Linked DNA regions of Homo sapiens: region 1 is linked to region 2. Evidence: fine-mapped expression QTL. Tissue or cell type: unexposed skin. Region 2 holds a variant in brackets; the other region holds the start of a gene. All regions are shown on one strand. Distances are from middle to middle.

Region 1 (5,000 bases), 29 kb after region 2:
AGACCACAAGTCAGCTCCCTCCTTTTCCTTTCCCTACTTTTTGTGGTTTTGATGTGAACATAGAACATGTCTTGGAACCCAGGACTTCATGTTGGTGCATTAGTATCATTTTATTTATGTATTTATTTATTTATTTTTGAGACAGAGTCTCGCTCTGTCACCCAGGCTGGAGTGCAGTGGCGAGATCTCAGCTCACTGCAACCTCCGCCTCCCGGGTTCAAGCGATTCTCCTGCCTCAGCCTCCCGAGTAGCTGGGATTACAGACGTGCGCCGCCATGCCCGGCTAATGTTTGTATTTTTAGTAGAGATGGGGTTTCATCATGTTGGCCAGGCTGATCTCGAGCTCCCAACCTCAGGTGATCCACCTGCCTCAGCTTCCCAAAGTGCTGGGATTGCAGGCGTGAGTCACTGTGCCTGGTCGCATTGATATAATTTTTATAAGATACTCCAGTCCCAACCCAGGTACATATTTTTCAACTTTCTAAGCAAAATTTTAAATAATATTTTCATAGTAAATTGGGAATGTTTTCATCCCTTAATTAAAAATAAACCAGTCAAGCTGGGCGTGGTGGTTCACGCCTGTAATCTCAGCACTGGGAGGCCAAACCAGGTGGATGGCTTGAGCCCAGGAGTTCAAGACCAGCCTGGGCAACACAGTGAGACATTGTCTCTACAAAAAATACAAAAATTAGCCTGGCGTGGTGGCGTGCACCTGTAGTCCCAGCTGCTTGTCAAGCTGAGGTGGGAGGATGGCTTGAGCCTGGGAGGTGGAGATCGCAGTTGAGCCTGGGAGGTGGAGCCAAGATCATGCCACTGCACTCCAACCTGGGCAACAGAGCTAGACCCTGTCTCAAAAAAACAAAAAATAGGCTGGGCGCAGTGGCTCATGCGTCTCAAAAATAAATAAATAAATAAATAAATAAATAAATAAATAAATAAATAAAATTAAACCAACCCACAGTCCCTTAAAAGCTGGGCTCTTGCACAACCCTAAACTGCCTCAGATAAGCCGTGGTCAGTTTGTGAGACTCATTGATCGTGTGCAATTGTGGTCCCATGGCACGCTTTGGATTCAAATTCTCATCCAACTTCCCTTGCTACCCCAGGTCGCCCTCAAACTTTGTTCTTTTATTCATATCTGGCAGGAAGCTCAGATGAGTAAGAGAAATATCTTGTTTTCTGATGGTCAAATCTTGATTTATTATCACTCAGGGCCATTATCGTCTAAATGTTCTCCGTGGTTCTAAAGCTTTAGTGTACGAGATCACGAGGATGTGAAAGGTACTTTTGAAAAATTCAGGTCTCAGAACTCCAGCCCCAGTGATGCTGATTCTAAAATTCTAGGGATAGGGAGTGGGGGACGCAGGTGGAATCAGAAATCTGCCGTAAGAATAAAATAACCACAGGCCACCCTGACAAAGGTGGTCTTCTGGCCTCCCTTTAAGAAGCACTGGGGAGGACCTCAACCCCTTCTGATGGTTGGACAGTGATATTTTACCAGCAGAGGCAGGACCCTGATGCGTTCCAATGGGGTGTTCCTCTCTGAGCTCTTTGGACGGAATGACAACCCCAAGCAGCAGAGCGTGTTAGCAACAGGTACCCCAAAGGCTGGCTTGCCCGTGTATCTCTGTGCAGGGACGCTTTCACGGCGTTGTTTCCCTCCAGAGTGCACAGTGAGAGGAAGAGCGGCCAGCTCCGCCCGTGGCGGTCCCCACCCTGCGCGCCCGGCCACTTACTTGCCCACCACCAGGCTGGCGCCTTCCAGCACCGCCAGGCTGCGCAGCGCATCCCGCGCCAGGAAGCGCTCGCCGCGGGCGCACACCAGCACCACTTGCTGCGCGTTCTCCAGCAGGAGGCTGTGGCCGCTTGCCATGTCGCCTCGCGCCGAGGGTCGCCGGGAGGCCACCGGGCTCGGGCCACCGGCAGGACTCAGTGGAGGACGAAAAGCCGCAGCCTGCGCTGTCCGGGGCTGGGAGGGTGGGGCGGGGGCGGGCGCTCGCAGCCGCTGCCCTTTGCTCGCCTCCCCCAACCACAGCAACGGGGGCGGTAATCATTGCAAGAATGGCAACGAGTAATAAACCTGATGAGGAATCCTCTCTTTTTTGGTCGTCTTGTCCCATCCCGAGTAAACGAGATGGAGACTAGTGTCCCTACTTTTCAGATAAGGAAACTTAAGCTTGGTCACCCCGAGAGATCAAAGTGAGCTGTGTGGATCACGTGGTATGTGGAAGCGCGTCAAGGGTTGGCTGGGTGAGGGCACCCGGAGTGTTCGGGAGTGAGGGACCGGAACCTGGGGTAGAGCCCCGGAAGGGGGGCCATGGGGGAAACCTCTGCCCGGGGGGTTGGGGTGGGAGCCTGGAGATAGCGCTCCTGGAGAGGGCAGAGTAGGGGAAAGCTGTGCCCAGGGGCAGGGACGGGAGCTTGGAGGTAGAGCCCCGGGAGAGGACAGAGTGGGGGAAACCTCTGCCTAGGGTGCTGGGACGCGAGCCTGGAGGCAGAGCCCCGGGAGGGTACTGCGTGGAGGAAACATCTGCCCACAGGTTCTGGGGCGGGAGCCCGGGACGCGGAGGGCCGCGAGCCGAGGGAACCTGGGGGTGGGGAGGAGGGGGATGCGGTAGGGGAGGTGCTCCTGGGTCCGCGCGGGTGGCGGGTGCCCCGCACTTATCCGTTGGCCAGCTGCGTTCCGGGATCAGCTACCAGACGGTCCCTGAGATGACCGGGAACCGGGCTGGGGGAGGATAGAGCCGAGACTGGAGGATCGATTGGCACCTCCGCCCACTTTTCCCACAACGCCTTCCCGAACGATAGGTTGGAAAGGCTCCTGGATCCAAACTCGCTGAGGTAAAATAGGTTTCAGCTCAGTGTCCGCCCCTCCGCATGCCCCCTCCCACCCCTCAGCTGTGTCTGGTGGGCCTACAAGCAACTTGCGACCAAAATTGGAGACAGAATCAAGTTTATGGAAGATGGTCTGTGATTCTCAGCCTCGTCGCTTCCTGCTACCAATTGCTATGGAAACACTGCCAGGCCCAGGCTTTTGAGTCCTTAATTACTTGATTTCGTTTATTCATGTTTATCACAAGCTCTGTGTTAAGTCTTGTGGAACATACAAAGATAGGAAAGGCGCTTTCCCTGCCCAGTAAAGACTTTACAATAAAAGTGATAGATGTGGACACAAATAATATACTATAAAAGCAGACTAAGCCTGCAAACCCACAAAATATAAAAGTTAATTTAGTCTCATTAAAAAAACCTGGAACAGAAAGCAAACACTCCTTTAGATGACCACGATAAATAAGAATATAATTTAGCTTCATATTATGGCCTATAAAAGAGAGATCAGTTAGGAAAGAGAAAGATAAAAATTGGAAAATATATAGACAATGTGAGTGAAAGAGACCCTAAGGGTGGGGGGGAGGGGGCATCAGAAGATTATTCACAGCTCATATACACAATCACAAACAGGTTGTTTGTGTGTGTGTGTGCATAGCTTTTAAAAAGTTTATACATACATATATTTCTATGTCTTTAAAAAGAGAAGTAGAAATAGTGGGGAATAGAAACACATAAAGTCACTAATTCACAGAGAAATATTAAAATTTTCTATTATAAAATTTCTGCTGAAGACTTTAATCAGTTACATTTTGCAATTTTAGGCATATTTGCAGAACTATGCAATTGTATGTATAAAGGATGGGTTAAAATTATAGAAAAATAGGGTTCAATAAACTTGTCTTAGTCTGAGTTCTGTTTCCTATAAGCTGTTTGACCTTGGGGAATTTCTTTACAGTAATTTCTCGAAGCCTCGTTTTCTCATCCTCATCATAGGGAGAGCTGTTTCTACTTTATGGGCTTGTCTGAGTTTTAAATAAAATAAAACATAAATCACTTAGCCCAGTGCCCAGCTCTAAACAAGTAATAGGTATTATTACTATTATTCGTGTGTTTTAATCCTGCTATTTGTCTTCCTGGCCAATTAAGTTAAAGATTAGATTTCAGCCAATAGTATAGTTCCTCTCCTGACTTCACAGACCATGTACTTAAAGCTTGCAAGTTCTGGGTGAGTCTAAAAGAAATTATATTTCTTTTTCATAGGTATTTATGTTTGTGGGTGAACTGTGCATCTGATTCACAGTCCAGACAGACAACATTACCTGATAAGCTCCTGCAAACAGGAGGTTTGCAAAAGCAGAAAGGATGAGTGAATTTCTTTCCTTAGTTACTGTTCAGTAGTTATAGATGGATAAGGATGACACATTTTTCCTTGGTAATAACCAACATCCCGATAGCAGCTCTTATAAAATACTTTTCACATTATCTGACTTGTATATGCTGACTCCTTAACCCATCCTTCCTTCCTCTTGACCTCCAGTTTTTTTTTTTGTTTGTTTGTTTGTTTTTTTTCACTTCGCAAAAGGGGCAGTCAGAAATGTCAACAGAAGCGTCCATACTAAATAGCCTGACGCCAGCAGTGCCTTAAAGGTCAAGGTGAAAGTAATTTCCTCATCATTGTGCTGTGCTCTGACCTAGTCAGAAGCGGCAGCGTGCATCTAAGCAGGCCAAGGACCCAGTGGCTCCTGGCTTTTAGGTAAACAAAAAATTGCTAACTGTGATCTCCCCACACCATCCAAGGACACAGTTCACAGCCCCTTTTCCTAGTATTTGTCCAAGGTAGGCGGAGAGGAGGTGGGAAAAAAAAATGGAAGGGCATTGGGTCTGAGAGAACCAGTCTAAATCCTCATATGCATGTGAAGATAAACATTGCTTTTTATCTCACATTGAGATCATCTGGAAATTCGTTTTCATTGGGTTTTAGAGGGGGTTGTTGCAAAAAAACAAATAAACTGATTCGAATAATATCTGGTAGACAGTGTTATTATTCATTTTATTTAGAGTTGGTTTAGAAACTTAGGACTGGGCCTTATCAAATCCCACTCCTCTTTCCCCACTTCCCCTGGAGCTCAGAATGTTAAGACTCTACATGAAGCTGATTCAGGTCCCCC
Region 2 (7,233 bases):
TATCGTTTTTGAAGTGCTTTAAACCTTTTGAATAACTTGTGGGTGTTATGTTCCCTAGAATCGCTTGATTTCCTTAAAACAGTTGCTCTGCTCTGGGGCAGTGATTTTTCCCTGTGATTTTCACACCCATTATTTCTAAGCATGCCCTGCACTCTGGATGGGGAAGCTGCTTGCCTGCTGCCAACTTTGGTGCTAGGAGGGAGGTATACGAGAGGTTAGCCTTTAAGAGTATTCATTTGCTAAGGTCATAAAAAATAATAGGAAAGGCTCCTTGGCTGTCAGTGGCAATCAGTTAAAAAGCAGATATAAACCAAAAACAGGGCCTTAATTTCATTCAATTTAAAAAAAAATTTTTTTAGAGATGCGGGTCTTGCTATGTTGCCAAGGCTGGACTCAAACTCCTGGGCTCAAGTGATCCTCCCACTTTGGCTTCTTGAGTAGCTGGGACTACAGGCACATGCCACCATGCCCGTCCAGGGCCTTACTTTGAGATGATGTTATGCTTAAGAAAAAAAAAAAAAAAGAAAAAAGAGGTTGGTGGGTGGGAGGCAAAAGCTAACCAAGGATCTGAGGCAGTGCCTCTCCAACATTAAAGTGGCTATGAATCTGCTGGGCATCTTGTTAAAATGCAGGTGTGGATTCAGTAGGTCTGGGTGAAGGCCAAGATTCTGACTTGTCCCAGGTGATGCTGATACTGCAGGGGCACAGGCCACGCTTTGAGTAGCAGGGTCAAAGGAACAGAGCACCTGTGGCATGGAAATAAGGCAATAGGGAAATACAATTCACTGCCTTTTACCATTTAAGGCTTGCTTTAGAAAACACACAGGTCCAGGCCATGTGTGGTGGCTCACGCCTGTAATCCCAGCACTTTGGGAAGCTGTGGTGGGTGGATCACTTGAGGCCAGAAATTCGAGACCAGCCTGGCCAACATGGTGAAACCCCATCTCTGCTAAAAATACAAAAATTAGCTGGGCCTGGTGGCATGCACCTGTAATCCCAGCTACTCAGGAGGCTGAGGCACAAGAATTGCTTGAACCTGGAAGGTGGAGGTTGCAGTGAGCTGAGATCATGCTACTGCACTCCAGCCTGGGCGACAGAGTGAGACTCTGTCTCACAAAAAAAGAAAAAAAACAAAAAAACAAGAAAAAAACCACATAGGTACTGTTAAGACCCTGGAGCAACTATCCTTCACTCTATCCACACTGAATTCTCTGGGTTTTGTTATTTGCTTGCTTGTTTTGCTTAGGAAAAGTATGCAGCTTAAAATCTTTATGATGACTTTAGAAAGTTTTGGACTTTGTATATTTACAGTCTTTAATGCAACCAAAGACTAATTGACACAGGTCATGTGTCAAATGGCTTAAAATAAAAGCAAGCAAACAGCAGCTGTGTCTGGTCATGTATAGAGTATGTTTTGACTTCGGATGAAGTTGATGTTTAATAGCATGTGGAAACAATGTCGTCAATATTTCAACTTTGTTTTGTCCTTGCTTTTCAGGTTTGGGAAGTAGCTGCTCCATACATTGAAAAATACAGAATGGAGCATATTCCAGAATCAAGACCTCTTTCTCCAACAGCCTTTTCACTGCAATTTCTGCACAAGAAATCCACCAAAATCCCGGAGTCTGAGGACCTTTAATGGGCTTTGTCATGAAGTAGCAGATGAGAGGGCAGTCAGTTTAGCACAAAGCAATACTAGGCTGAAGGAGAGACCTGAGAACTTTCCTAGGTAGATCAATCCATTGTATCATTCAGTTCTTCTAAAGCCTACGTTGGTTAGGCTGATGGCAGTATTATAGTTGCTAAATTCAGCACTGTGTTCCTGTTGTCGTGGTTCAAGACCCACCAGGTATTTTCAGATTATAAAACTTTTCTTTCTTTCTTAACAGTTTCAACAGGCCACTCACTCTTAAGGGTGAGAAGAATAACCACAATTGTATGTGCCTGTTTTTTACTCTTAGCATTAGATGAATTCAAATTTGGAAACAGATTGATAGCAATTTTTTCTAAAAACATTAGACTTTTGTTAACCTTTTTTTTTTTTTTTAAATTTGCTTCAACAAGCTCTCCACCAGTTGACTTTCTTTGGCTAATTTTACTTTGCATGATATGCCTTAATATGCCTTCATAAATAACCATTTTAAGTCATAATTTGTCCTTAAGCTGCTTTTTTCTTCTATTAATTGGATCATAGTAAAGAGTAGTCAATAGGGTCTTCAGCTATTAATTGTAGAGGTGATTAAAACCAACAAGGAGTTTCATGTGCAAAGGAGATAAGGAATGAATATAAAGATTGCTATTTGGGTGGCTCTTATTAAACTGTGTATTTTGTACTTATCACTACACGTATCCCCCAAATGCTTACATGGGAGTTTGAGGTTAGTATTTTCACTTCCTTGGTGTTAGTACTCTATTCACATTCTTATTGTAACCTTCCTCATTTCACAGATAAGGAATCTTTGGGGATTAACCAACCTCCTTTCTGTAATGGTAATCATTAAAATAAGTCCTATTGATAAAGGTCAGATGGAGCCCTAGAGTGTATTACTGCATCTATTTTTTTCCCCGAGAAGATAAAGGACCTTCAGGGATGGCTTAAGTGTATCTGTCCAGATGAAGGATGGGTCACATGACCTCTTGGCTTCCCAAGTCTAAGCTCTGTGACTTTGCACCAGTGTGTGCATATATGTGCAAGGCCCTTCAAGTGGTCTGAAACCGTGGCTCTAAAAACCACAGCTGGTGGAGAGGAGGACAGACACACTTGCCACCTTGCCTACCTAATTGCCATCTAAAATGGGCCGAACAGTGGATTTCACAATAGAGTTTTCACCCTTTAGATTTACAACCTGTCAGGTGGAAACTGAAGTGAAAACTGCTGC[A/C]CACAGCAATTCAGGGAGCAAAAAATGTGCTGAGGAGACTGTTTACCTAAAGGTTGTTCTTGGTGCTATTCCTTGTCAAAATGTGAACACACACAAATGAGGTTTGTGCATTGTCATCCGTGGGCTGCCATTGAGCCAGTAACCCCCAGTGGTCTCATGGTGCTCTTCGCTCCAGTTTGGGGAATGCTGGATTCTTTCAGCCCCTGCAGCCCTCCAGGTCAAAATGACACTTTGTCACTGAGTTTTCTACACAGCTCTATTAGTAACTGACAGCACACGCCTTCAAGGGAACTTCAAGGGAAACATGGAATAAACTAAGTCTCAATTGCCTTATGGTGTCGCTTTATTCTTAGGTATTTATAGCAAAGTTAAGCGCCTCTAACAGCAGTTAATCAAGCTTCTGAAGGATTCAGTTGACAGATGTCAACCGTTTTAAGAACAATATGCTTGACTCAGTACACTCTTTTTCCCATTGGCTAGCAACAAAAGAGTTGGAGGTATCAGGATTTCCTCCCCAGCCCCGCAGGCTCACCTGGTCTTTGTCACAAGTTGTCTCAGGGCAGCTGGAGGAGGCAAACCCTAAAGAACAAGGGCTTTTCAAGTCCCTGTTGTGCCACGTTCGCTAATGTCCTGTTGGCTAAAGCGAGTCACGTTCCAGGCCCAGAGTCAATTTGGGAGGGTAACACTCAAGGGCATGGGCATGTGATTTGACGTGATCCATGGGCCTGTATCTGACAATCTACCACATGCATAAAATCCCATCACAGGCTGGGTGCAGTGGCTCATGCCTGTAATCCCAGCACTTTGGGAGGCCAAGGTGAGTGGATCACGAGGTCAGGATTTCAAAACCACCCTGGCCAAGATGGTGAAACCCTGTCTCTACTAAAATTACAAAAATTAGCCAGGCACCGTGGCAGGTGCCTGTAATCCCAGCTACTCGGGAGGCTGAAGCAGGAGAATTGCTTGATCCTGGGTGGCAGAGGTTGCAGCGAGCCAAGATCGTGCCACTGCACTCCAGCCTGGGTGACAGAGTGAGACTCCATCTCAAAAAAAAAGAAAGAAAGAAAAAAAAGAAAAGAAAAAGAAAAAAAAGTCATTACAACCGGCAAAATTCAAAAGCAGATACATTTCATACTGCTTTAAACCTGTGTCTGATTTTTGGGTCTGGTCACTGGATTGCTTTTTATTAAACTTTATGGTTCTCTTTATGGTTCATTTTGCTTTTTTTTTTTTTTTTTTTTGAGATGGAGTCTCGGCTCTGTCACCCAGGCTGTAGTGCAATAATGCTACCTTAGCTCACTGCAAACCTCTGCCTCTTGCGTTCAAGCAATTCTCCTGCCTCAGCCTACCGAGTAGCTGGAATTACGGGTATGCGCCATCACACCCGGCTAATTTTTGTATTTTTAGTAGAGATGGGGTTTCACCATGTTGGTCAGGCTGGTCTTGAACTCCTGACCTCCAGGGATCCACATATCTTGGCCTCCCAAAGTGCTGGGATAACAGGCGTGAGCCACTGCTCCCAACTCATTTTGCCTTTTTGCTTACTTTTGTTGAGAGTATTAATTTATTAAATGTAAACATTGTAAATGTAAATGTAAATGTAAAAAATAGTTGGAGAACATTAGTTTCAGCCCAGAGGGTAGACTTCATTAGTCTAACATACAAAAGACAGTTAAATTACAATGCTACAAAGGCTATCATAGAGATGTGGGAATGTGGGGAAGGGCGTCCAGCTCCAGTTTCCCATGTAAGGAAGAGAAGGAAAGCATTCTGGGCAGAGGGAACCGTATTGCATGGCCCTGAGCAGCTCACTGTCCCCTAAGGAACAGTGTGAAGATTGGTGTGATTAGGGCTTAGAACTCAGAGCTGCTCAGACCTTAATGTGCATGTGAATCACCCGGGGCTTATTAGCATGCAGATTCGGACTCAGCAGGTCTGGGTCCAGCCAGAGGTTCTGCATTCCTAGCAAACTCCGTCAGTTGCACGGGCTTGCAGCACGCTGGCCTGGGAGGACTAGGGCAGTTTGGGTAGATGTCTTTTTCTGTCTTCTTTCAAAAAAGGCATGAATGCTATTTGTTTAAAGTGAGTGCCTCCTAGATGAAAAATCAGATGTGCTTCTCCTTCTTGTTTCTTCAATAGAAGAATCTAATCTTGTGTTGCTTGAGTTCCAGGGAAGACTCGACCTAACATTCCGTTTTGGCTTTTATGTGTATCTCCTGCGCCCCAAATGTTCAGTGCCTAGGTGACTGGTCACAGGGGAGCCATCACACACAGCAACTGTGTGCCCCCTACACTGTCTCAAGACTTCTTAAATAATCGCATGAGGTTCAGAGCTCCAGAGACCCCATTGTGATTGTGTCCGGAATTGGTGGGTTCTTGGTCTCACTGACTTCAAGAATGAAGCCGCGGACCCTCGGGCTGAGTGTTACAGCTCTTAAGATGGTGCGTCTGAAGTTGTTCGTTCCTCCCGGTGGGCTCGTGGTCTTGCTGAGCTCAGGAGTGAAGCTGCAGATCTTCGTGGTGAGTGTTACAGCTCATAAAAGCAGCGTGGACCCAACGAGTGAGCAGTAACAAGATTTATTGCAAAGAGCGAAAGAACAAAGCTTCCACAGTGTGGAAGGGGACCCCAGCGGGTTGCCAATGCTGGCTCGGGCAGCCTGCTTTTATTCTCTTATCTGGCCCCACCCACATCCTGCTGATTGGTAGAGGCTAGTGGCCTGTTTTGTCAGGGCGCTGATTGGTGCGTTTACAATCCCTGAGCTAGATACAAAGGTTCTCCACATCCCCATCAGATTAGTTAGATACAGTTTCCACACCCAGGTTCTCCAAGGCCCCACCAGAGCAGCTAGATACAGAGTGTCGATTGGTGCATTCACAAACCTTGAGCTAAACACAGGGTGCTGATTGGTGTATTTACAAACCTTGAGCTAGATACAGAGTGCCGATTGGTGTATTTACAATCCCTGAGCTAGACATAAAGACTCTCCCTTTGGGAGGCCGAGACGGGCGGATCACGAGGTCAGGAGATCGAGACCACCCTGGCTAACACGGTGAAACCCCGTCTCTACTAAAAATACAAAAATTAGCCGGGCATGGTGGCGCGCGCCTGTAGTCCCAGCTACACGGGAGGCTGAGGCAGGAGAATGGCGTGAACCCGGGAGGCGGAGCTTGCAGTGAGTCGAGATTGCGCCACTGCACTCCAGCCTGGGCGACAGAGCGAAACTCCGTCTCAGAAAAAAAAAAAAAAAAAGACTCTCCACGTCCTCACCAGAGCAGCTAGATACAGAGTGTTGATTGGTGCACTCACAAACCTTGAGCTAAACACAGGGTGCTGATTGGTGTATTTACAATCCCTGAGCTAGATATAAAGACTCTCCAAGTCCCCACCAGACTCAGGAGCCCAGCTGGCTTCACCTAGTGGATCCCGCACCGGGGCTGCAGGTGGAGCTGCCTGCCAGTCCTGCGCCATGGGCTCGCATTCCTCAGCCCTTGGGTGGTCGATGGGACTGGGCGCCGTGGAGCAGGGGTGATGCTCGTCAGGGAGGCTCGGGCCGCACAGGAGCCCATGGAGTGGGTGGGAGGCTCAGGCATGGCGGGCTGCAGGTCCCGAGCCCTGCCCCGTGGGAAGGCAGCTAAGGCCCGGCGAGAAATCGAGCACAGCGCTGGTGGGCCAGCACTGCTGGGGGACTCAGTACACCCTCCGCAGCCACTGGCCCGCGTGCTAAGTCCCTCACTGCCCGGGGCCAGCAGGGCTGGCCGGCTGCTCCGAGTGCGGGGCCTGCTAAGCCCACGCCCACCCGGAACTCCAGGTGGCCCGCAAGCGCCGCACGCAGCCCCTGTTCCCGCTCACGCCTCTCCCTCCACACCTCACTGCAAGCTGAAGGAGTGGGCTCCAGCCTTGGCCAGCCCAGAAAAGGGCTCCCACAGTGCAGTAGGGGGGCTGAAGGGCTCCTCAAATGCCACCAAAGTGGGAGCCCAGGCAGAGGAGATGCCGAGAGCAAGCGAGGGCTCTGAGGACTGCCAGCATGCTGTCACCTCTCATGATGACAACAATGTGCAATGTTACCCTTAACCTTCCAGTGAGGGGCATTTTGAGTTGCTTTATATTGACTACAGCAAAGCCTCATTCATTCAGGCTCTATTAAACTGAAATTAGTGATCACTTGGAGAGTTAATCTTTACTTCTCAAATCATTTCTTACCAAGTTTGGTAATGCAGTTGTGATTATAAAGATGATCGAAACACTTAAAAAGATTTCAAATCAACTTACATGGCTTTTAAAAACACCCATTTATATGTAAATAATTATCGACTCTTTACAAATAATTTTGTAATTTCCTAAAAACTCTAATAG

Evidence for each region. PIP is the estimated chance that this variant, and not a neighbour inherited with it, causes the effect.
Region 1: it holds the start of AMDHD1, and the variant in region 2 is fine-mapped to the expression of AMDHD1 in unexposed skin (GTEx, PIP 0.99).

The regions. Positions count from the first base shown.
Region 1 is chr12:95,940,272-95,945,271 of GRCh38, reverse strand. AMDHD1 (amidohydrolase domain containing 1) reads right to left here and starts at 1,941. Exons shown (of 9, transcript NM_152435.3): 1 at 1,737-1,941. The coding sequence starts at 1,873. CCDC38 (coiled-coil domain containing 38) reads left to right here and starts at 2,658. Exons shown (of 16, transcript NM_182496.3): 1 at 2,658-2,841.
Region 2 is chr12:95,968,638-95,975,870 of GRCh38, reverse strand. It overlaps HAL (histidine ammonia-lyase), which reads left to right. Exons shown (of 21, transcript NM_002108.4): 21 at 1,499-3,209. The coding sequence ends at 1,639. It overlaps AMDHD1 (amidohydrolase domain containing 1), which reads right to left. Exons shown (of 9, transcript NM_152435.3): 9 at 7,151-7,233. Among named protein-coding and RNA genes, the nearest start is that of HAL, 24 kb to the left of the region's middle. RefSeq lists enhancers at 4,475-5,120, 5,121-5,766. The variant A/C (reference allele first, on the strand shown) is at 2,880.